2 separate regions of the Homo sapiens genome follow, and region 2 is linked to region 1. Evidence: fine-mapped expression QTL. A gene starts in region 1. The other region holds a variant in brackets. All regions are shown on one strand. Distances are between the middles of the regions. Region 1 holds the start of ZFPL1 (zinc finger protein like 1). Region 2 holds the start of OVOL1 (ovo like transcriptional repressor 1).

The links. PIP is the estimated chance that this variant, and not a neighbour inherited with it, causes the effect.
Region 2: its variant is fine-mapped to the expression of ZFPL1 in whole blood (TOPMed, PIP 0.91).

Annotation. Positions count from the first base shown.
Region 1 is chr11:65,072,876-65,088,232 of GRCh38, forward strand. It overlaps ZFPL1 (zinc finger protein like 1), which reads left to right and starts at 11,347. Exons shown (of 8, transcript NM_006782.4): 1 at 11,347-11,503; 2 at 11,816-11,925; 3 at 12,240-12,351; 4 at 13,540-13,733; 5 at 13,845-13,917; 6 at 14,053-14,199; 7 at 14,441-14,558; 8 at 15,053-15,357. The coding sequence starts at 11,824. The coding sequence ends at 15,239. It overlaps CDCA5 (cell division cycle associated 5), which reads right to left and starts at 11,165. Exons shown (of 6, transcript NM_080668.4): 1 at 11,058-11,165; 2 at 10,754-10,848; 3 at 10,610-10,675; 4 at 10,489-10,524; 5 at 6,478-6,912; 6 at 4,578-6,312. The coding sequence starts at 11,103. The coding sequence ends at 6,232. RefSeq lists enhancers at 5,756-6,257, 10,897-11,126, 11,207-11,476, 12,066-12,650.
Region 2 is chr11:65,780,938-65,790,121 of GRCh38, forward strand. OVOL1 (ovo like transcriptional repressor 1) reads left to right here and starts at 6,126. Exons shown (of 4, transcript NM_004561.4): 1 at 6,126-6,536. The coding sequence starts at 6,437. It overlaps LOC124902693, which reads right to left. Exons shown (of 7, transcript XM_047427980.1): 7 at 8,064-8,500. It overlaps OVOL1-AS1 (OVOL1 antisense RNA 1), which reads right to left. Exons shown (of 2, transcript NR_108085.1): 2 at 8,064-8,500. AP5B1 (adaptor related protein complex 5 subunit beta 1) reads right to left here and starts at 39. Exons shown (of 2, transcript NM_138368.5): 1 at 1-39. RefSeq lists enhancers at 1-23, 753-1,410, 4,831-5,812 and a silencer at 1-492. The variant G/A (reference allele first, on the strand shown) is at 5,905.

The DNA of each region.
Region 1 (15,357 bases):
ACTTGAAAATTGTTCATTGAGCACTTACCATGCACCAAGTGCTTTACTTGTATTATTTCATTCTTTTTTTTTTTTTTTTTTTTTTTGAGATGGAGTTTCTCTCTTTCACCCAGGCTGGAGTGAAGTGGCATGATCTTGGCTCACTGCAACCTCCACCCGCCAGGGTTCAAGTGATTCTCCTGCCTCAGCCTCCCGAGTAGCTGGGATTACAGGTGCCCGCCACCATGCCCGGCTAATTTTTGTATTTTTAGTAGAGACGAGGTTTCACCATCTTGGCCAGGCTGGTCTTGAACTCCTGACCTCAAGTAATCCAACCACCTCAGCCTCCCAAAGTGCTGGGATTACAGGTGTGAGCCACCGCGCCCGGCCGACTATCTCATTTTTAAACACTGTGGCATAGGTATTATTATTGTCCTCATTTTACTGTTAAGGAAACTGAGGCACATCAGAGTCTAATTATTATCATTTGCCTGGGATCACACAGCTAGAAGCTGGCAGAGCCAGGATTCAAACCCAGTTGGATTGCAGAACCTGTGCTCTTTGCTTTCACCAGGGTGGGGCAGGTGGGGAGGAAAGGCTGAGCAGGGGTGACGCGTGAGCCAGACTTAATGACGCGGGGCTCCCCAGGTGACGCAGGAGTGGGGAAAGACACGAGAGGCAGAGAGCAAAGGTTCAGAGGCAGGGACCTCCAAGCAGCTCGCAGCCTGCGGTGGGTCTGTGGGCTGAAGCCTGGACACCAGCCTCGGCCTGGAGTCCTCATGAGCCCCACTAAGGTGTCAGGAGCCCCCTAGACCAGCCAGGGTTCTGGGGTGCAAACAGGAAACAATGTTGGCTGATTTGAGCAAAAAGGAGTTTATTGGGAGGATGCTGGGGAGTCACAGAACTCACGGGAAGAAGAGACTTCAAAGGGCAGGCACTGTAGGGCGCCGACTGCCAGAACTAGGACAGGGGAGGGCCTGCAGATGGACAAACACGCATTCCCCACACCAGACACTGCTGGACAGGCGGTGCCTTCATCCCTCCTCACACCCATCACTCAAGGTGGAGAATCTGATCAGTTTAGGTCCTGGTTGCCGGGATCAGGGAGAGCAAGCATCTGGGATATTCACTCCCACTGAGTGGCTGGGGTCCTGCAGACAGCACATGCCTGGAGGCTGAGACGCTACTGGGCAGCCAGGCACCAGCGACCATTCATTCCACTGCTGCACGGAGCATGGGAAGTCAGCAGAGGTTTCTGTTTCGGCTGGAGTGCAGTGGCACAATATCGGCTCACTGCAACTTCCACCTCCTGGGTTCAAGCCATTCTCCTGCCTCAGCCACCCAAGTAGCTGGGATTACAGGCACCCGCCACCACGCCCACCTAATTTTTCTATTGTTAGTAGAGATGGGGTTTCACCATGTTGGCCAGGCTGGTCTTGAACTCCTGACCTCAAGTGACCCACCAACCTTGGCCTCCCAAAATGCTGGGATTACAAGTGTGAGCCACCGCGCCTGGCCCAATTTCCTCCTTTTTAAGGCTGAATAATATTCCACTGTATTGATAGGTCACACTTTATCCATTCAGCTGCTGGTAGACATTTGTGTTGTTTCCAGCTTTTTGGTTATTGTTGAATAATGCTGCTAGGAACTTGGTGTACAAATCTATTCCAATGCCTGCTTTCAACTTTCTCTGGTCTTATTACACTCAGGTGTGAAATTGTATTAAAAGGTTTTAAAGGCCAGGCATGGTGACACGTGCCTGTAGTCTCAGCTACTTGGGCAGCTGAGGTGGAAGGATGGCTTGAGTCTGGGAAGTGGAGGTTGCAGTGAGCCCAGATCACAATACTGCAGTCCAGCCTGGGCGACGGAGCCAGACCTTGTCTCAAAAAAAAAAAAAAAAAAAAAAAAAAATTGGCAGGGGTTTTGGCTGGGCATGGTGGCTCACACCTCTAATCCCAGCACTTTAGGAGGCCAAGGAGGGTGGATCACCTGAGGTCGGGAGTTCAAGACCAGTCTGACCAACATGGAGAAACCCCGTCTCTTACTAAAAATACAAAATTAGCTGGGCGTGGTGGCACATGCCTGTAATTCCAGCTACTCAGGAGGCTGAGGCAGGAGAATCGCTTGAACTCGGGAGGTGGAGGTTGTGGTGAGCCGAGATCGTGCCATTGCACTCCAGCCTGGGTGACAAGAGTGAAACTCCGTCTCAAAAAAAAAAAAAAAAAAAAGGGTTTTAAGGAGGGGAGAAATAGGCCCGGCGTGCCAGCCACGGTGATTCACGCCTATAACCCCAGCACTTTGGGAGGCTGAGTTGGGCGGACCACCTGAGGTCAGAAATTAGAGACCAGCTTGGCCAACATAACGAAACCCCGTCTCTACTAAAAATAGAAAAATTAGCCGGGTGTGGCAGTGGGCACCTGTAATCCTAGCTACTTGGGAGGCTGAGGCAGGAGAATCACTTGAACCCAGGAGGTGGAGGTTGCAGTCAGCCGAGATTGCACCACTGCACTCTAGCCTGGGCAACAAAAGTGAAACTCCATCTCAAAAATAAAAATAAAAAATTAAGGAGGGGAGAAACAGGATCATATTGTGTGTTTTAGGAAATGTGTTCTAGCTGCAGTGCAGACAGTGTGGAGATACAGCAGCCCAAGGGAATGACCCACAGGAGGCTAGTGCAATTGTCTAGTGGCTGTGGGGTGGGGGGGATGTTGAGGGGGATGGGGCTGGCCACATGGGGTGAAGGAAGAAGGAGCTGGTCCTGGGTTCCTGGCCCGTGTGACTGTGTCAGCTGGTGGCTCTGCTAATGGCACAGAGAACACAGGAGTAGGCAAGCTGCTGGATGAGCAGAGCTTCAGATGACTTCCTGAAAGGCAGTTCTAGATTCTGATTTGTAGCTCAGGACAGTTTTAGGTTGGAGATAAAGATGGACAAGTCTTGAGCAAGGAGGCAGTCCAGAGAGCGAGGCTACCCGGCAAGAGCAGGCAGGTGGGAAAGAGGGTCCAGGACTGAGGCCTGGTATCCAGACATTTCAGGAAAAGCCAAGAAAAAGGAGCTGGCAGTGCCACAGCCCCAAAGAGGGTGTCCTGGCAGAGGCCCGAGCTTAGTATGTTGGATATTAGGACATCACTGGTTACCTTTGTCTGAGCTGTTAAAGAGAGTGACGAGGGCATTGGGAATAAATTCAAAGTAAAGAGCAACTTGGAACGTTCCTTCAAGCTTAAAATGGTGGTAGCTAACGACAGATGCTGGTCGACTTTTGGTTGTCTTTTTTGTCTTTTGAAACAGGGTCTTTACTCTGTTGCCCAGACTGGAGTGCAATGGCGTCACCATGGCTCACTGTAGCCCCGACCTCCCAGGCTCAGGTGATCCTCCCACCTCAGCCTCCTGAGTAGCTGGACTGCAGATATGTGCCACCACGCCCATTTATTTTTTTTACATTTTTTGTAGTCAGGATCTCCCTATGTTGCCCAGGCTGGTCTTGAACTCCTGAGCTCAAGTGATCCTCCTGCCTCAGCTTCCCAAAGTGCTGGGATTACAGGTGTCAGCCACTGTGCCCAGCCTGGTTGTCATTTTTTAACAACAAAGCAAATAAAAGCCATTTAGGACTTGGAAGAAAAAGAAGAGGAAGGTTTCAGAGACAAGATAATTGGATCAAAAACCAAAGTGGAAAGGCTAGCCTTGAAGAGGGGACCCATCTCCTCTGGGTGGGGGAAGGAGGTCAAAGCGGATTAAGTCTGTGGAGAACTTAATGGCTTTGATTTGTTTGGATGACTAGGAGGCAAGTACAAGTGTGGAGGATGGGATGGGAGGCTGGTCTGTGCCACCTGCCTGTAGGGTCCTAGCCTTACCTAAGGCCAAGTGGGAGAATTTCCAGGCATCAGCATCTTTGATCAGCTCCCCAGGGTCCCACAGCACCTGCTGCTACACAGTGTCCAGTCTGGACCATGGAGTGAGCAACTCGGGCTCCTTCAAAGGAGCCTGAAAGGGAATGGGGAACGAGGGCTGGACTCGGGAGGGTGTTTGCTTCCCAGGCATCTCCCGTGGGCACTGGGGGAGCTCTTAGCACTCTCACCCCAGACCCGACTTTCTTCCTCCTAGAAGAGGAGCAGACTGGGGACTGGACAGAAATAAACAAGACACGGGGCAGGACAGGCCAGGCGCAGTGGCTCACGCCTGTAATCCCAACACTTTGGGAGGCCGAGGAGGGCAGATCACTTGAGGTCAGAGTTCAAGACCAGCCTGGCCAACATGGTGAAACCTCATCTCTAATAAAAATATAAAAATTAGCCAGGCGTGGTGGTGGGCACCTGTAACCCCAGCTACTTGGGAGGCTGAGGCAGGAGAATCGCTTGAACCTGGGAGGCAGAGGTTGCAGTCAACTGAGATCACGCCACTGGACTCCAGCCTGGGAGACAGAGCTAGACTCTGTCTCAAAGAAAAAAAAAAGTGTGTGGGGCACAGTGATCTACCATGGGGCGAATGCGGGGAAGCGGGGCTGGGAGCGCCTGGACAAAGGGACAACCCCAGTGATGCAGCCCACTGGAGGCCTGGCCTTACCTTCGGCTCTGCCTTTGACTCAATAAAAGAAACACAGTCCATGAACAGGCAGAAACTCTTTAATCAGGCTTTTTTTCCAACTCTAAAACAAAATCCCATTTTTTCCTTAAATTTAGTTCCTCAGGAACAGAGAACTTTGCAATGATGATCTCAACTCTGCATCATCTGGTGACTCCTGATTCTGCAGGACTAAGACATTTCCCAAGAGTTCTGCTGCATCAGCCAGTGAGGACAAGAGTTCTTCAGTGCGGTTCAGCTCAAGGACACCTAGGCTTCCCCAGCAGGGGGCTTGCTTGCAGGTCTGACAAACCACAGAGCGTTGAGCAGATGGCCTGGGACTCCCAGACCTGGCAGAGGGTTTTATTAGGGCCCGCCTGGCCTGCACCGTTTCATCCAAGTACCCTGACCCAGCACTCATCTTCCCTGGCATTCTCTGTTATCCACCAGCTCCTCTGCACACCTCAGCGTCTACTTCCACGAACTTCTAAACATCAAAAGGTACAATGGCCAGGGGTGCGGCAGGAGAGTCGGGGGCAGGGCAGCCTTCAAATCCACACTATTGAATCCACACGATGGAAAGAAGAGAAAGATGGGGAAATTCTCCAGAGATCATGAGATGCATCCAGGCAGTGTTCTCATGTGAGAGGATAGGGAGGCCAAAAACTAAAATTGCTATCAGCCCCCGCCGCTGTCTGGTACGCGAGGAAACTTTCCGAGGACTTTACAAGCATAGTTGCAAAATGCTAGTAGGTCTGGGACTCTTCAACTTTCTCTTCTAGGGCCAAGTAGACTCGGTGTAACTTATTTTGTAAGAAATGGGTATGGGTGACAAGAGGGGCCACCTTCCACCCCTGCAGCAGAGTGGTAAGACTCCAGCGTGGGCCCTGTGCAAGGGACCAGCCCAGAGGCCATGAGCCACAGAAACTCACAGCACCTGGTGGCCACACCCTGAAATGCACCCTTTGCTCCAAGCAGCCAGCGCCCTATCAACCTGGCATTTACCAAACATCTCAACAGCAGACCAGAACTAGAAAACACAGCTTCTGTGTAGTACACACTTATGGTCTGAGACCCAACTAAGGCTCCCTACATCCTTCAAAACTCAGACTCCACAGGCTGAATGTCCAGCTTCTTCCTCCAAGACAGAATTGCCCTCAGCCCACGAATTCTCTCTGGGACTATTTACAGAATCAAAGGGGAAACCCACGGAACTGAAAACCTCTTTACACAGGTGGGTTCAAGAAGAAAGCCACCAACAGAAGGCAACTCAGGAGGGAGAGGCCGAGGCTGGCAGAGCCCCTGGGCCTATTTCCAAGCAGCCACCCCTCCCAACAAGAGCAGAGGTGCCTCTCACCTCAACCCTCAGCCCTTTAACTTCTGGCTGGGCCACTGATTCTCCTCCCCAGTCTGTGGCCCATCTGGAAACTGGCTATGGTACTTTGGGGAGATAGGAAGGACAGGACGACAAGAGACAGGACACCAGTGAGTGGCTGGGCCAGGCGGCCCCATTTCCTAAAACCAAGATGGCTGCCGCTGCTGCCCAAGCCCTCAAAGGCAGACAGTCCTCATGCGCAGCACCAGCACACACACAGGTAACAAGACCAGGGGAGGGGACCCTAAGTGTCCTCTCCACAGGGAGGTGGCTATGTACAGGACAGGAGGGAGAGTCTGGCCAGGTGCACCCCCCACTGCATCTCATTCAACCAGGAGATCAAACTGCTCAGCAGCTTCAAACTCGGCATTCATGGCCGCAGCCCACTCATCCAGCTCCGTTTTCTGAGGGAAGAGAAATGAGGAGCAGGTGAGTGAGAAGGGAACATGGTGGCTGGAGCATCTCACCCACACCCTGCAGGTGCTGCCTATCCCCCAAAAGAGCCAGAGCCCCAGCCCTGCACGTCTCCCAGAGCACACGGCAGAGAAAAACCCCTGCCTCTCACTCACCAAGATCTCTGGCATTTTCTTCTTCTTACGTTTCTGTTTCTCGGGTGGTGGGGAGATTCCAGGGAGAGTCATGTCTGGGGCCCAGGGCTTTGCACAAACCCTGGGGACCTCGGTGAGTTTGGAGCACACCACTGGCGAGACTCCGGACAAGTCTTCTGCCCCCAGCAGCCCCTCGAAGCCAAAGCAGGACCGGCGGCCTGGGGTGGAGGTAGAGGCAGAGCCCAGGGTCTCCAGCCGGCTGTAGGAACGCCTGACTTTCTTAGACATTTCCAAGTCTCTGGCGTCCAGCTCTCCTTCCTTGGAGCTGGACTCGGCCTCAGGGTTCGGCACAGGAGTGCTGGTGGGGGTGGCAGGGACGCTGTGTGTCTTGAAAAGGTCCTCCTTAGTAAGCTCCCTGCCAGGGGGCTCGTTTTCTTTCTCCAAGAAAAAGGAAATCTGCACCAGGACAGAAGAGGGGATGCCCTCAATACTTAGCTGGACTGCTTACTTCCAGAAAAGCCCGAGAAGATTCAGGGTGGAAAGACCCACAGGACACACACTTTTTTTTTTTTTTTTTGAGACGGAGTCTTGCTCTCTCGCCCAGGCTGGAGTGCAGTGGCATGATCTCGGCTCACTGCAAGCTCCGCCTCCCGGGTTCACGCCATTCTCCTGCCTCAGCCTTCCGAGTAGCTGGGACTACAGGCGCCCGCCACCTCGCCCGGCTAATTTTTTGTATTTTTAGTAGAGACGGGGTTTCACCGTGTTAGCCAGGAGGGTCTCGATTTCCTGACCTCGTGATCCGCCCGCCTCGGCCTCCCAAAGTGCTGGGATTACAGGCGTGAGCCACCATGCCCGGCCAACACACACTTTTTTTAAGGAAGGGACAAATCAGACCCTGAAAGAGACATGGAGAGAAGAAAACAACCCACCATTGCTTCCAAGGAGTCTGCTTTTGTGACACAAATGGACTTGCCCCCATCTGCTGGTGCTGTCGCTTGTTTCCAAAATGTGCCCAGCATCCAGCCTCTCCTCTGACCAACTCAAGCCCTCATTAGGTGTCTTCTAGACCAGCTCAGCAACGTTTTTTGTTTTGTTTCCAGATAAACGGTCTCAACTCTGTTGCCCAGGCTGGAGTGCAGTGGCACGATCATGGCTCACTGAAGCCTCAGCCTCCAGGGCTCACGCAATCCTCCTACCTCAGCCTCTGAGTAGCCGGGACTACAGGCATGTGACACTCTGTCTGGCTGATTTTTTTTTAGTTTCTTTGTAGAGTAGGGGAGGTCTCCCTTTGTTGCCCAGGCTGGTCCCAGCGACCTTCTGATTTCTCTCCCTGTTTCCACCCTTGCCTGCTGTGGTCCATCTGCCACACAGCTGATGAGGATTGTCCTAAATGTCCACTCAGTCCATAAGTATTTATCAGTCACCTGTCCTGTGCCAGGCACTGGGAACACAGCAGGGAATAAAACAGAGAAAACCCCTGCCCCATTCTAAGAGAAAAACAGGTAAGAAAATTCAGTATTATGTTAGCAGTATCAAGCACTACAGGAAAACAGAACAGGAGAGAGTGCTTGGGGCAGGTTAGAATTGCAAAAAGATAAAGGTCAATACATCCCTCACTGAGGTGACATTCAAGCTACAACTTGAAGGAGGTGTGGGAGTGACTCATGGCCAAGTTCTAGGCAGTGGGAACAGAAGGTGCAACAACCCTGAGGCCACAGTGTACTAGTCAGGGTCAAACAACAAGGAGGCCAGTGTGGCTGAAGTGAAGGCAAGAGGAAGAAACTGAAGATGAAGTTCAAGAGATAATGGGTGGCCAGATATGGTGGTTCACACCTATAATCCCAGCACTTTGGGAGGCTGAGGTGGGTGGATCACCTGAGGTCAGGAGTTTGAGACCAGCCTGGCCAACATAGTGAAACCCCATCTCTACTGAAAATACAAAAAAAATTAGCCAGGTGTGGTAGCAGGTGCCTGTAAGCCCAGCTACTTGGGAGGCTGAGGCAGGAGAATCGGTTGAACCTGGGAGGCGGAGGTTGCAGTGAGCCGAGATTGCGCCACTGCACTCCAGCCTGGGTGACAGTGCGAGACTCCATCTCAAAAAAAAAAAACACAGGGAAGCTGAACAAATTGGTGGTCACTGCTGACTACGACTTCCTCATTCTCTATAGCCAAGCAGTCACCCAGGTCCTGGCAACTTTATCCTGCTCGATGTACCATGAATCTCAGTCAATCAACAAGAATGAGTGGCTACTAGGAAAGGCAGAAGTCCCTACCCTCAAGGTGCCTGTGTTCTTAGAGGGGGGAGAGAAAGACATCAAACATGCAAGAAAATACACTATAAGAACTGATAAGGACCAGGCACAGTGGCTCATGCCTGTAATCCCAACACTTTAGGAGGCCAAGGTGGGAGGATCACTTGAGCCCAGGAGTTCAAGACCGGCCTGGGCAACATAGTGAACCCTCATCTCTATAAAAAAAATTAGAGAAAACATCAAAAAATTAGCCAGGCATGGTGGCATGTGACTATAGTCCCAGCTACTTGAGAGGCTGAGGAGGGAAGATCTGCAGTGAGCCGAAATCTCGCCACTGCACTCCAGCCTGGGTGGCAGAACAAGACCCTATCTTTAGAACTGGTAAGGCCTAAGAGAATTACATAGAGAAATGTGACAGCAATAGGGTAAGGGTGGTCAGGGAAGGCCACTGGGGGGCAATTCCCTCTGAACCCAGTACTGTATATCATCCTGGCTTTAGCTCACGCCCTTGGCTTCATGCTTCAGAATTCCTGGACTTCACGTCATTCCACTGGTCTTGGAGCCCCAGGGTAGCCCTTCTCAAAACCATTCTCCCCACAGCCCCCAGAGGGGTCTTTCTTAAAACACTCAAACTTGACTCGGTCACTACCTTACCCAGAACTCTCCAAAGGCTGCCCACAGACCCAAGAATGATGCCCAAGCCATGAGTGTGGCTTTTGTGCCTCATCAGGATCTGCTCTGCCTTAGGGTGCTTCCTCCCCTGCTGAGGTCTGCTGCAGACACTAAACAAATTGCTATTCCCCGAACCTTGATTTTTCTTTAAATTCCCAATCTCTGCAAACATGGCTTCTTTGACCTGGAACAAACCTACTTGTCTTTTTTTTTTTTTTTTTTTTTGAGATGGAGTCTCGCTTTGTCACCCAGGCTGGAGTGCAGGGGCGTGATCTCGGCCCACTGCAACCTCCGCCTCCTGGGTTTAAGCGATTCTCCTGCCTCAGCCTCCTGAGTAGCTGGGACTATAGGCACGTGCCACCATGCCTGGCTAATTTTGTATTTTTAGTAGACACAGGGTTTCACCACGTTGGCCAGGCTGGTCTTAAACTCTTGACCACAAGTGATCTGCCCGCCTCAGCCTCCCAAAATGCTAGGATCACAAGCGTGAGCCACTGCACCCGGCCTCTACTTGTCTTTAAAGACTCAGTTCAAATGTTTCTTCTTCCACGAAACATTCCCTGAGCCACATGGTCTGGGTTAGCTACCATCATAGCATCTAGTATTCCTTATTGCAGTCCCAGTACACAACGTTGCTATCACTTGTCATTGGTCTTTCTCCCCAGTTGACTCTAAGCCCTATCAGCTCTTCAAAGGAGTTCACATTTCTCAGTCAGTATGTCTTCAGATTGTCTATTAATGAAACATCCTTTGATAATAACTTCTGCTAAAACTGTAAAAATGTCATACACATGACTTATCTCAGAACACCCATACATGAAAGCTGAAGGCATAATGGATTAGAAAGGCAGTACGTGGAGTTAAGACATAGCTCAGCTTTTAAAGGAAGTTCCAGGAAAATGGTAGAAATACACAAGGCATAAAAAGTTAAGTGTATTAAGTCTTCAGGGAGTAATCAAGACTGGCAATGCATGCAGGTGCCCACAGGCAAACTGTTTTTGCAGTACTGCAAAACAGCTCCCTGGGCAGATGTGAGGAGCCAATGTGTGCTGTCCAGCTCTAGAGTGACCCAGATTCTACTTAATTAAGTAGATGAAAGTGAACTCACCCTAGGGCTCCTGCGAGGTGATTGGACAGCTGGGACCTGCGGGGGACAATACCAATTGATCACATAGCTGGTCCCCAGTTTTGCCCGCCTAACCACCCACAACACTCTCCTTAGCCTTTACCTCTACAGCATGGGCCACGATCCTCTTTAAGACGATGGGCTTTCTGACTGCAGCCGCACTGGGTGTCTGGAGAAGAGGGATGAACGTGAGCTCAACATTAGGTGAGGGGCCACAAGGGGAGGAAGTGAGAAATCTGGGGCTCACCTTCGGCCAGATTTCAGGGAGGATGCTCGGGAGTTCAGAGCCTGATTTCCGCTGGGACCTCCGCAGAGGCTTAGTAGGAGATGGGGCCCTTGGCCCTGGAAAGAGAAAAAAGTTAAGTGGTAGAGGAGGACTCTAGACCTTAGAGTCCAGAGAACAGGTTCTAGAGACAGCGAGAAGATTCCCAAACAAGCCCTTTTAAGGGCGCCTCCTCCGGCGGCGGCAGCGGGAGGGAAGAGGCCATCTTTCACCGGACTGCGTCCCCCAAACGGCTCGACCTCACGTCTCCCGCGCGCCCTCCGCTCACCGGAGCGCTGAGCGGCTCCTCCGGACCGCGTTCGCCTCCCAGACATAACTTAGGCTCCGTCTCGAGCTCCTCCAGCGCCGCCGCCCCGGGCGCGCGCCAACCGGGAAGGCCACTCGCTGCAAAAAACGTTCGAATTACCCGCCCTGCGGGAAAGGAAGCGGAAGTGACGTAGGGCTAGCGGTCTGCGGCCCTCGGAACCCCGAGTCTTTTCCACCCGTCTTCACCTCTAGCGGCAGCGGAGGCGTGGCCCAGGGGCGCGATGGCGTCATCAGCGCGCGCCGCACCCGGAAGAGACGTGGCAGCGGAGGGATAATCGGGGCGGCCGGGGCTGAAGGGAGAGGCGCAGGAGCCCTGGGGAGAGTGGTCCCTGCCCTTCCGCGCCTCGAGCCATCGCTACCGCCCTTCGGAACCAGTGCAGCGGCCGATCAGTAAACACAGAGACTGGGGTCTGTAGAGAAGGGGCGGGACTTGGAGGGGGTGGGGCTCAGGAGAGGTCTTGGGGGCGGGGCCGGTAGTATCGGGGAGCCTCTGATGGAGGGGCCTGGCCGGGGGCGGGATCCAGAAGGATTGAGGGGTCGCCGGAGGCGGGATTTATGCAGGGGGTGTTTCTCCGCATAAGGAGGGACAGTGGGCAGGAATCTGAGATCGGGGCGAATATGAGAGGTGTCTGGGGGAGTTAAGAGTGGAAACTGGGCTGGTGAGAGCGTAGTGGTGGCCACCAGAACCTGACTTCCTACCAACTCATGCCCCTTTCCCAGGATCGATCATGGGGCTTTGTAAGTGCCCCAAGAGAAAGGTGACCAACCTGTTCTGCTTCGAACATCGGGTCAACGTCTGCGAGCACTGCCTGGTAGCCAATCACGCCAAGGTGGGGCCTTCAGGGGAGCGACTGAGCAGGGCACTGGGTGGGCAAGGCGGTATTGGCTTCCTCCAAATCCATGAGGGGCCCCGCGCTAGAATGTAAGCCCCACAAGGGCAAGGACTTGATTTATTTTGTTCACTGATATATCCCCCGTTCCCAAGAGAGAGTCTGGTGCACAGTATGTGCTCAATAAATATTTATTGATTAAACAAACGAAAGGATGAGTCTCCTCTGTGGCTAGAGAAAAAGAGACAGTCGGACCTTGGGGTGATAGGCCGAGCAGCCCCAGCACCAGTTGTGACATCTCTCTCCCACTCCAGTGCATCGTCCAGTCCTACCTGCAATGGCTCCAAGATAGCGACTACAACCCCAATTGCCGCCTGTGCAACATACCCCTGGCCAGCCGAGAGACGACCCGCCTTGTCTGCTATGGTGAGGCCTTGGCACCTCGGGGGGATCAGGCCAGCCTCAGGGGCCAGCTTGGTGACTGGTTTCCAGGCCCTCCTCAAGCAGCAGGACAGTGAGTCCCCCGAGTCTCAGAGCCCAGATTCTAGTCCTGTTAAAGTTCCTTACCTGCTGTGTAAGTTCAGGCAAGTTATTCTTCCTTTCTAGGCCTCACTGTCTTTCCTAAAAATTAAAGCTCCTAGTTCCTCTTTCCTAAAAATTAAGCCCTGCCAATCTGGAGGTTTCAGCGAGAACCAGTCAAGCTTACGGGTATGCTGGTGGCCGTGACTATTAGCTAGCCAGACCGGCATGTTGCTTTCAGATATTCAGGATCCACCACTGATTCCAAGGCTAAACAGAGAGGAAGTGAGTTTCCCACATTAAAGTTAGCTAAAAGAAGTCAGCAGACATATGTGTCATGACTTTGACCTGAATCTGGGGTAAGAGCCTTAGCTCCAGTTTTTGAAGGAGCTCATGCAAGAGTCAGCTCCATATGTGTTTCTCCTTGTGAGTGCATGTGTGTACTTGCAGGCACTTAATGTACATTGTGTGTTTAAATGAGTGTTAGTGTGTTGATCTGTACTTGGGGTGAATGAATGGGTAAATGTATGTATGTGAACATATGAACACAGGTGTGTTGTGGGAGTGCAAGAGAATGCATGGTTGAGGGTGCCTGTTAGCAAACCTGTGAGTGTATAGATGTGTATGTGTGAGGGCTCCTGTACCCATAGTGTAGATATAGGGAATGCCACTTGTGTTTGATTATGTGCTTATAAGGACATGTACATTTGTGCCCAGGGATGTGTACATGTATATGTGTGCCTGTGTGTGTATCGAGGAACCTTTTCTGAAACTGTTCATTATTAGCCATTAGCCCAAAGAATATGATGAGTGCAGGCCCAGAGAGGACTCATTGAAAGGACTGAAAGGGGAGGTGGCGTTTTCTTCCTACCCAAACTTACCCCTGTGAGCTGGACAGCTTGGTAGCACCTGCCTGGACTTAGATGGTGGTAGCCAAGAAGACTGACATTTTAGGGAACAGGACGGGGAGGAGAAGGCTCTGGCACACACACATGTGTCCATATGTCCTGCAATGGTCTGGGGACTATTGCTAGGCTAGGAGCCCTAAGTGTCTTCTTCCTCATGTCTCTTCTCCCCTGTCTCATGGGCCCTAAGATCTCTTTCACTGGGCCTGCCTCAATGAACGTGCTGCCCAGCTACCCCGAAACACGGCACCTGCCGGCTATCAGTGCCCCAGCTGCAATGGCCCCATCTTCCCCCCAACCAACCTGGCTGGCCCCGTGGCCTCCGCACTGAGAGAGAAGCTGGCCACAGTCAACTGGGCCCGGGCAGGACTGGGCCTCCCTCTGGTGAGAGTCCCTCGTCTGTCTGACCATCTATCTGCCCTGGGCCCCACCTGAGTCAGATGGGTGGGTGGGGACAATACTAGGCAGCCTGGTGACCCAGATTCCTTCCTCCAGATCGATGAGGTGGTGAGCCCAGAGCCCGAGCCCCTCAACACGTCTGACTTCTCTGACTGGTCTAGTTTTAATGGTAAGTGGTGGCTTCCACCGACTGTTTGGGCTTTAGCCTCCCTGCTCTGCTGACAGCTCCCTTGGTCTGCAGTCACATGCTCTACCCCTGAGCTCTATGCACTGCTTCTGCTGACGGCTCTCTTTCCACCCACAGCCAGCAGTACCCCTGGACCAGAGGAGGTAGACAGCGCCTCTGCTGCCCCAGCCTTCTACAGCCAGGCCCCCCGGCCCCCAGCTTCCCCAGGCCGGCCCGAGCAGCACACAGTGATCCACATGGGCAATCCTGAGCCCTTGACTCACGGTGAGCCTGGGAGTTATCCAGGCCGCAGAAGGATAGGAAGAGGGTGGAATGGTTTGTATAGGGGGAGCTTGAGGATCCAGAGACCCACCCGGAGGAACCTTTCCTTAATCCAGGCACAGCCATTACCTCCTCACAATTCTGAGATGTTCTGTCAGACTGAGGAGAGCAGGTGATCCCCCTAGCCCTCCCCAAAGCGGCCAGTTTTCCTGAGTCTATTGATGCTAGTGGCTCCACCCTGTAGCCCCTAGGAAGGTGTATGATACGCGGGATGATGACCGGACACCAGGCCTCCATGGAGACTGTGACGATGACAAGTACCGACGTCGGCCGGCCTTGGGTTGGCTGGCCCGGCTGCTAAGGTACACAGGGTCAGGCAGGGCGGAATGCCAGGAAGGGGTGGAGAGGGAATGGGAGCCAGAGGTCCTGGAAGGGATGGTTTCATGACAAAAGGGGCTTGTTCTGGGGAGTAACAGTACCTGGTGCTGGGGCTGTGCAGAGAGGCCTTGGCTGTGCAGCAGAAGCTGTGTTTTGCTTCTCTCTGGGACTGTCTCTATGCCTCCTACACAGGAGGTTTGAACTCAGGCTCTTTGAGGCCCCTTCCCGATCTGACACCCCCTAATCTTTGTAATTCTCCCCGACGTCTGACACACTGTGGTTTCCAGAATACAGTCGTGCGCCTCAGCTGGTTTGAGCTGCACAATAACGCCCTATGGTGGCAGGTGCAGGAGTGATCATCCCTGAGGCACAGACGAGGAGATGGAGGCTCAGGAATGGGTGGTGACCAGGGCTTCTCTCCAGCCGCGGGGGCCACCAGGGACTGGGGCCTGACCTGATTTTCCCCTCATCCCCCCAGGAGCCGGGCTGGGTCTCGGAAGCGGCCGCTGACCCTGCTCCAGCGGGCGGGGCTGCTGCTACTCTTGGGACTGCTGGGCTTCCTGGCCCTCCTTGCCCTCATGTCTCGCCTAGGCCGGGCCGCAGCTGACAGCGATCCCAACCTGGACCCACTCATGAACCCTCACATCCGCGTGGGCCCCTCCTGAGCCCCCTTGCTTGTGGCTAGGCCAGCCTAGGATGTGGGTTCTGTGGAGGAGAGGCGGGGTAATGGGGAGGCTGAGGGCACCTCTTCACTGCCCCTCTCCCTCAAGCCTAAGACACTAA
Region 2 (9,184 bases), 700 kb after region 1:
CCGCCGCGGGCACTCAGGCCGGCCGGCTCCTTCCGGGCTGGCGGCGCGGGGCGGGGCGCGGCGCGGGGGCGGCCGAGTCCGGGCGGGGAGGGGCGGGGCGTAACGGGGCCACCGCCTCCCGCAGGTGTCGACTCGCAGGTTTCGCGGGGGCTGACTAACTGTCCCGCCGCGCAGGCCCCCTTCCCCGAAACCGCCGCAGGCCGGGGCAGGAAAGGCGGAGGGGAGTGGGTAGGGGTGGCGGAGCGGGGTGGGCCTGGGCCCCAGATGCCGGGTACCGCGGCGCAGGGCTGCGATCCCGCGGCCCTCGGCGGACAGCGGCCCGGTCCCACCAGCGCCCGCCAAGCCGCGCAGGGCGGCAGCCAGCGCGCCCCCCGCCGGCGCCCGGGCACACCGCACCCTGCGCCAGACGCGCGGCCCCGGGGGGCGTGGGTGCGGGTCCTGGGGCTCCCGGAGTGGCCCCTGGGGGTGACCAAGGTGCGGTCGCAGGGCGCCCGCAGGAAAAGCGCCCCAGCTGAACCGGTCCGGCGGGCGCCGCAGGGCTTGGCTTCGCTTCCCTGACGCCTGCCCGGGCCCCCAGCCCGCTCGGCTTGGGGGCGAGGAGCCGGCGCCGCGGTTGCGGCCAGCCAGGAGCTTCTGACCTTTGTTTGCCCGAGGCCGCGCTGGCGGCCCGCAGGGGTCGTGACGGCGAGGGCGGGGCAGGGCCCTAAGTCGAAAACAACGGGATCCATACTCGGGAAGTGCGGGCTGTCAGGGCCTGGCCGGTCACGGGGCTCGAGGCATGCCTAGCGATGGGGAAAACAGGCCCAGGAGGAGGGCGGCCTTGCCAACCGAGATCTGGGGCCAAGCCGGGCCGGAACCCAGCACTCCAGACTTCAGTGGGCTGGATTCTGGCTGTTTGGGGGCATTCGGGGGTCTGGGCGGCGGTCTCTCCCAGGCCAGAGGCCCAGGTTGCAGGTGCCCCACAGACCACCGGTTTCCAGGGCACAGAACCGCCGGCGCCCAAACCTCACCACCCCTCTGGCTCCAATTAGCCGCTTTGAAGATGAAACAGGCCTGAGCCCCCATGCAAGCCAGTGCCAGCTGGCCTCTCCCTACCCCATCCTGCTCCAGATGGGAGGTGGTGGAGAGTTGAGGGGTGGAGAGTGCCAAAAAGGAGGCTGTCTGGGTGCCCTTGGGGATGGAGAGATAGAGACCCACTCGGAGGGACAGGTCCAGCCAGAAGGCCCGGTCCCGGCTCCTCTAGGCCCTGGCTCCACAGTTGACTCACAGGCAGCAGCCCCAAACTACTTCCCTCTAGGTGCCTCAGTTTCCCCATCTATAAAATGGGAGTGATAACTCCCACCCAAGAGGCTGTGGGGTGAGGCAGCCTGGCTAATTAAACCCAAGATGAAAGAGGCAGGATGAGAGCAGCCCTGGGGAGGGGAGGCAGCCTGCAGTAGGAGCCAGTCTGGTTTCTCTGTCTGAGCCCAGAGGGTGCTGGTAACTGCACATCCCCGGCCCTCACCACCCTCACGGTGAGGCAGGAATGATCATTAAACTTCTTGCAGAGTTGAGAAGACAGGTTTCCAAGGATCAGGGGGCCTGACACTGGCTCTGGCCCCGGCTCAGCCTCTGACAGCGTGGCCTCTGCACACCTCCTGCCTGAGTCTTGACTCCTTGAGGCTGAGGGTCTGGAGGGAGGGAACCCACTTGTGGTCTCCAATACTGCAGTGGACGAATCCGCATGGACTTACTGAGGCTCACAGCAACCCCAGGTACCGAGAGTGGGTATCAGATGAGGAAAGGGAAGCCCACAGAGGTACGGTCTCTCAGTCACAGAGCCCCTCAGAGGTGGAGCCTCGACTTCCACAAACAGCCCCTTGTTGCATCTGACCTGGTCCTCCCCCCACACCAGGTACCCTCGGCCCTCTTGGGTGTCCAGGTCCCTGGATGGGCCCTGTTCTCACCTGTCTGCTCCCCTATTGGCGGGTGGTGCTGGCTCTGTCCCTGGCAAGGCCAGGCATGGAGCTGAGCTCAGACTGTCACCGGACTCACCCGGGACAGCAACATCCCAGTCGAGGGCCCAGGTGTGGGCCACTGCCGGATGCTGAGCTGGGAATTCCCCACTCCACGCCCTCCCTCATTTCTTCTCCTGCTGAGTTTCTGTCCTCCCCATGCAGCCCAGTTGTGGGCAGACACTAAACACAAGGCTTGTAAAAGGGAAAGTCAGCTTCCCAAGGGGTCCTGAGCCTCAGTTTTCTCATCTGTAAAATCGGGCTACAACAAACACACTCTCGCAGCACTGGCTGCTGGGGATACAGGAAGGCTTAGGAAAGAACGAGTCAATAGGCAAAGCCATGGAGATAGAGCAGATAGTGGGTGCTGGGCCAGGGGGAAGGGAGACACAGTGACAGCTAATGAGTACAGGGTTTTCTTTGGGGCCATGAAAATGTTCTGAGATTTAGTGATGATGGTTGTACAGCTCTGTGAGGTTACTAAAAACCAGTGAATTGTACATCTTACAAAAGGGTGAATTTGATGGTATATGAATTCTATCTAAATAAAGCTATTTAAAATGGTGTTTAAAAAGGGGTCCCACCCCAGACCAGCAGGGGCACAAAAAGTAAAAATAAAAAATAAGGCCGGGCACGGTGGCTCACTCCTGTAATCCCAGCCTTTGGGAGGCTGAGGCGGGCAGATCACGAGGTCAGGAGATTGAGACCATCCTGGAGAACATGGTGAAACCCCGTCTCTACTAAAAATACAAAAAAATTAGCTGGGCATGGTGGCGGGCGCCTGTAAGTCCCAGCTACTCAGGAGGCTGAGGCAGGAGAATGGCGTGAACCAGGGGGTCGGAGCTTGCAGTGAGCCGAGATCACGCCACTGCTCTCCAGCCTGGACGACAGGGAGACACCGTCTCAAAAAAAATAAATAAAAATAAAAAAGTAAAATAAAAAGGGGTCCCTCAAGTTCAGAACTTGCACTGGTGGGGAGGAGAACCAACAATAAACAAGAAAGACAAACGAAACGCCACAGAGTCAAAGTTGTGGCAAAGAAAATAGGATAGTGGGACAGAGGTGGCAGGGGACAAGGATTTAGCTGGGGTGGATGGAGAGGCCCCTCAGAAGAGGGGACATTTGGTTGAAACCTGAATGAAGAAAGGTGGCCAGTAATCCAGTAGGGAAAAGTGTTCCAGGCAGAAGGAGCATCGGGAGGAGGGGCCAGAGCTGGGAACAGGCCAAGGCTTGTTCAGGGGACGCGGGAGACAGCAGTGTGGCTGGCATACAGGGACCCAGCTGGAAGGGGATTGGGAGGTCAACGGCGGCCCCAGCACGCCAGGCCTCAGGCTCTTATTCCAGCTGCAGTGAAGCCACTGGAGGGTGTGAGCCGAGGGGAGGCCTGGCCTGGGTTTTAAGAGCACCTCGTGTGGCCCACCTGCCTCTCCAACCTCAGCTTCCCTACCCTCTCTTCCCCCCACCGCACGGCCAGGTTGCATTTGGGTTCGCGGTACACACTAGGCTCACTCCTGCTCAGGGCCTTGGCATCAGCTGTTCCTTCTGCTGGTCATGATCTTCTCCACTCTGCACAGCTGGCTCCACCCTCTCATTCAGGCCTCAGCACCCCTACCTGCCACCATCACATTCTCTCGCCAAATGTTCTCTGTGCATCTTAGGCTTCTGCTTGTTTCCTTGTTTCTTTGTCTGCCTTGCCTTGTAGAATCTCAGTGCCTGGCACAGCAGGTTCTCAGGAATTAAGGGAAGAATTACGGGATGAATGAACACCATCTAGCTGGCACTGTGCTGCTAGATGAACAGAGATGTACTGCTAGATGTGGTGAACAGAGCACAGGCCGCCAGCCTTCGTGACACTCACAGTTCAACTCCGTGTTTCCCCGCCGTCACATACATCGTCTGTCTCCTGAGCTGCCCGTGAAGACAGCCACACCACACACCGCGGCCTGTGGGTCAAACCTAACCCACAAAGGTGTTTTGTTGGATCCATTCCATGTTTTAAAATTTTTTGATTAGCTGGGTGTGGTGGCAAACACCTGTAGTCCCAGCTACTCAGGAGGCTGAGGCAGGAGGATCACTTGAGCCCAGTAATTCGAGATTGCACCACTGTGCTCCAGCCAGGCGACCTGGTGAGACCCCAACTCTTAAAATTATTTTAAAAATAAAAAAATTGAGCTAACATTTAAAAATTAGTTGATTTCACTTACAAATCTGGACTTCTGGCTTCTCTTGGAAAATGGAAAGCTGTGGCCACGTGGGGTTTGTGCATCTGAATGACAGGATTGTGACTGCCGTTTAGATAGGGACATTCTCTCCCGTCCCCCCAACTCTGTTCTCCCCAACGGCCAGGGCCAGTTGTGTTTTCTCACTGAATTTGTAGTATTGTCTTCCCATATCTATGTCTCCACCAAAAGTTGGACTGTGAAAGGTGAATGGGTCACAGGAGTCAAGAAAAGAGGATATTCATTCATTCAACAAACATTTATTGATAACCCACTTTGTGCCAGGCACAGCTGTAGATGCTGGAGATATAGCAGTAGACAACACCGCCTCCCACCTGGGGCCCCATTCCACATCCTGTAACTCACTTGTGCAGGGAGGGGTTCCCCTGGCTGGCTTCACTTTATCTACCCAGTGTCCTGTCCCTCTGGACATTGGAGTTGCTCCCTTGATGGGGAAGACTGCCCCTTGTGTCTAGGGACATCTGTGAAGACTTCACCGTAGTATCCACCGAGCACCCACTGTGTACCAGCCCATCAGGGCTTGGCACAACAAAACTGCTCAACCAATATTTGTTGAATGAATGAACTAACTGCACCTCTGTCCTAGACAGATTGTGTTTAAGGTTGTTTCTCCTGGATTCACCTCAAAAGATAGGCACATACCAGGTGTTCACTTAATGTCAGTTGAACTCAAAGGTCTGGCTGGGATCAGAGTGGAGGTCACAGCCCTTAGAAAGGCAGGGGAAGAGGCAAACACGAACGCCCCATCCCTGCCCTTAAGTAGGTCAGCGAGTGAAGGAAGCCCAGCCAGCGCCCAAGTGTCACGATGAGAGTGTGGGCTTCATGGAGGCCTCTGAGGAGCGGGGGCATCCCTCCACGTGGGCCTGGGGCCTGAGGAGAGTATGAAGAGTGGCTGGGGGCGCGGGTCCCAGGCTGAACCTCAGCCCTGGGCAGGCCGTGGGTAGGAAGCTCTCCGCGGTGGCCGCAGCAGGGCAAAGGCGGCTGAGCCTTTCCCGGTCTGAGGTCCCCAGCCCTCCGCGCTCCACCAGCCTGGCTGCACCTGAAATCCACCCATTTGGGACAAGGAGGAGTTTTTTTGAGGATGCATAAGTCCCACTGGCCAAGACACGGGGGTCTGTCGGGCTCTCGGCGCACTCCGCGCAGTTGAAGCCACTTCCTCCGTGAAGCCCTCCGGGCAGAAGGCGGGTTCTCCGACGGGTACTCGGTCGCGCGGTCCGTGCCTCCCCACACACCGGCCGGGGCCGCTCCTGCGGCCCTGCGTGCCTTTTCGCACAAAGCCGGCGCCCAGCAAACACCTCCCCGGCTGAGCCACGAGTTGCTTAGCCAAGCCTTTGGGATCCCGCGCCGCCTGGGCCCAGGCCCGGTTCAACAAGTGCGGACCGGGCCGCCCGTTCCCGCCCGGCGGCTTCGCGCCTCCCCAGGAGCCTCGGGCGCGCCGGGTTGGGCCGGCCCCAGTGGGGCGAGTTTCGTGTCATCACCCGCGGAGCGTGCCAGCGCCGGTGCAAATAACGTTGCCCCCTCCCTCCCGGCTCCGCTCGCTCCGAAACTCCTGTTTGCAAACGCCAGTACGCCTGGCTAGGAGGTCCCGCGGGGGCCGGGCCGGCTGGGCAGCCAGGGGCTGAGTGCCCGAAGCTCGCCCCCCGACCCCGCCCCGCCCGGCCGCCCCGCCC[G/A]GGCCGCGAGGCCACCTCACCCGCAGCGGAATGGAAACCGGTTCGACAGGTAACAAATAGGTGGGTTGTCACCGTTATTTCCCAACGCATGCGCCGTCGCTCCCCGGGCCACCCCAAGCTAATTAGATCAGATCACCGCCCCCCACCCCCACCCCCCCCCGCCCCAGCCACCAACACACACCGCCGCGAGCCAATAAAGCGTGAACCCGTCCGTCCGGCTCGCACTTTAAGACTTCCCGAGCGGCGGCGGGGACGCCAGTCGAGCCGGGAGACGCTTACCTGCCGCTTCCCCGCGCCGCCCGGTGCACCTGGCCGCAAGGGACCTCGTTCTCAGGGAAGACGGCGACATTCCGCGGAGGTGGAACCGCCGCGCGCCGTCCGGGCTCGGACCTTCCCCGGAACGTGGGGGCGCCTTAGCGACTCCTTCCCTGTTGTGCCCCCGTTCCCGGCGTTCAGCCCGGCCCCGCAAAGGTGGGACGGCTCCCGGCTTCAGTTACGGAAGCGGCCCGTGTCCAGCGACGAGGGTTCGAAAATGCCCCGCGCGTTCCTGGTGAAGAAGCCGTGCGTCTCCACGTGCAAGAGGAACTGGAGCGAGCTCCCCGACGAGGAGCGCGGCGAGATCTACGTGCCAGGTGAGGCTCCAACCGCCCTCCGGCCTGGGGCACCCGCGGCGGCGTCGAGGCTGCGGGCGGGCGGGCGGGCGCAGGTCCGCGGAGCCAGGCGGCAGGCGCGGTGTGGGCGCCGGGGCTGAATGCGGCCGCGGCCTGGGCTGGGTGGGCCCGCGGCTCTCGACCCGGGACTCGGGGGGCGGGGGCGGGGCCGGCGGAAGAGCGCTGGTCGGGGCGGGGGCTGCATGGTGGAAGGGGAGCCGCTCCCAGGGCCAGGGGGCGCGGAACCGCCTACCCCCACCCCCTGAACCGCGGCACAGAGGAGGCAGCGGGGTGTGTCACCGCTCAGGCGACCCTCGGCTCCGACGTCGTAAATCCAGAAAACCGGGACTCGCATGAGGCGGGAGAAGGCACTGGAGCGATGCCACTTTGGGGGGCGGGGAGCGGGCTGGAGTTTCGGCCGAGATTTGTGTTAAAAGCTCAGAGCTTCAGCCGCTCGCACAGGTCCTTCCTCCTCCCCCACAACACTGGTGGCCGGGTCGGAGTGAGGGTCGGGCCGGTGGGGGGCGTGGGCCCCCAAATTTTCGTTGGGCTCCGGCTGCTAGTCCCGCGCAGTGAGCCGAGACGGTGGGACAGGCGCCCGCTGCGCCCCGCTTGCCCTTAAAGCAGAGGTGGGATCGGGTCTCACCTCTGCTAGAAACGCACTTCCTTCACCTTGCGGAGGGCACAATTGCATGGAAAGCAGCTGCAGGGAGCCCACCCCACAGCGGAGGGCCAGGCCCGGGGAAGCTGGTGTACCCAGTTATTTTTGGCAGACGCCTAGACAGCGTCGACTGTGAGAGTTGCTTCTTCCTCCAGCGGCATCTTCCCCTGAACGCCCCAAGAACACTCCTACCCCTTCTGTCCTCCCCCACCCCCAACAAAGTCTTTGGTCTGGAGAAAGCCTGCTTCCTTCCGAACGCCCCCTCCCCAGGCCTTGGGGGCGGGGCGTGGACGCTCTGAACGCCCAGCCCAGCCCCTCCGAGGGGGGAGGGGAGGAGTAATTAACCAACTGACTTTGACCCTTGATCTGCAGACTCCCTGGCACCGCCCCAGGCCTTGTAGGAAAGTGGGGAAATGAGGGCAGCAGTGAGGGGCCCCGTGAGGGCTCTTGCTCAGTTTCCCTCCTGAATAAGCTGTTGGAGACAGTGTCCTGGTGAGGTCTTTGTGGCCTGACCTTCCAGGACCCAGTGGCCTGTGGCGCTGGCAGGATGTTTCACAGCTTAACCTGATCTCAAGGGGACCCCTCTTCCACCGTTCCTTAAAACAAGGGAATGTGCCAGAAGACCCTGGTAACCCCAGTGGGGAAACTGAGGCAAAAAGGGAAGTGAGTGGCCTCCCCACCTGAGGCAGATTAGGGTGTGGGCTCAGAATTCTGTGTATAGCTTCTTGCTTGGCCACACTCCCTGGTGAGCTGGCTGGTTCTCTACCTGGGGGTTGGTGGGGGCACGCAGAGGGCCAGAGCCCCCTCCCCGCTCCGCCCTCCGCCCTCCACCCTCACCTGTGTTTGACTTGCTGCTTAGCTGCTCCTTGGGATCTGATAAACTGAACTTGGACCGTGGTAAAGGTGAGCTGAGCCCTGAGCCAGGCTCAGTGTGCTGTTATTTTTAGTTTTATTTCACATCCCAATCAGTAACAGATCATGTGTTGATTTTTACAAAGGACAAAGAAATTCCGTTGGTTGAAATCATTGACTTCTTTTTGTCCTAGCTATTTTCTCTGCCACACTTCCAGTGGCCACAGTGGAAGTGGCAGGGGAGACGTATGCCCCAGGGGCTTCCTGTCAGGTGCAGGAGAGGGCCTCTGGGTGGTCCAGGCCACCCGCTGGCACCATCCAGGTGAGGGAGACCTGCCGGCTTCTCTGTAGGCTCCTCCAGGATGTGTGGCGGGAGTCCAATCTCAAGGATGAAGGGAGAATTTGTCCTCATCCCCATGGCAAGGAGAGAATCCTGTGGGTCAAGTAAAGGGTAGAAGATAGAGAACTTAATTTTACCTCTGAAAGTCATGTGGCCCACTGGAGAGTTTTCCCACAGTTTTTGGCAATGAGAAAGGGACTGTCCTCAGTCCACGCTCGGGTGCCTCAGATGGCTGGAGAGTGGGGGTGCGTTTTGTGCTGGCCTGTCCCCTGGCTGGGCCATTCCATCACCAGCCAACCATGACCCCAGAGCCAGCTGGGCACGTTTCCGTTCACCTCACAGATTCCTGGTAAGTTGTGACCAGCTAAGCGTTGACCCCATTTCCAGTGGAGGGCCCAGGAATGTGGGAGTGTTTGAGTTCTGACCTTCCTGCCAGGTTCCTCTGAGACCCTCAAAGCCTCCCAGAAGGTTTTGGGAGAAGGTTTTACAGGCCAGAGACACTGGTCCCCAGCCCGACAGCACTGATTCCAGGGCCCCAGTTTGACAATCCCATCAGCCTCTCTCCCCAAGGCAGAATTCTAGAGCTTCTTACTCCCGGGGCAGAATCTTTCCCCTGGGAAGAGGTGAAGATGGTTGCAAGCACCCTGGAGATTTGAAAGGATTACTGGCTAGGAAGCCACCTTGAACCGCTCCCCCACCCACCCCCCCAACCACCCTCCCCTCGCCTTCCTTTGTTATGTCAATATTGACTTGGAGTGACAGGGAGTAATGCTGGTT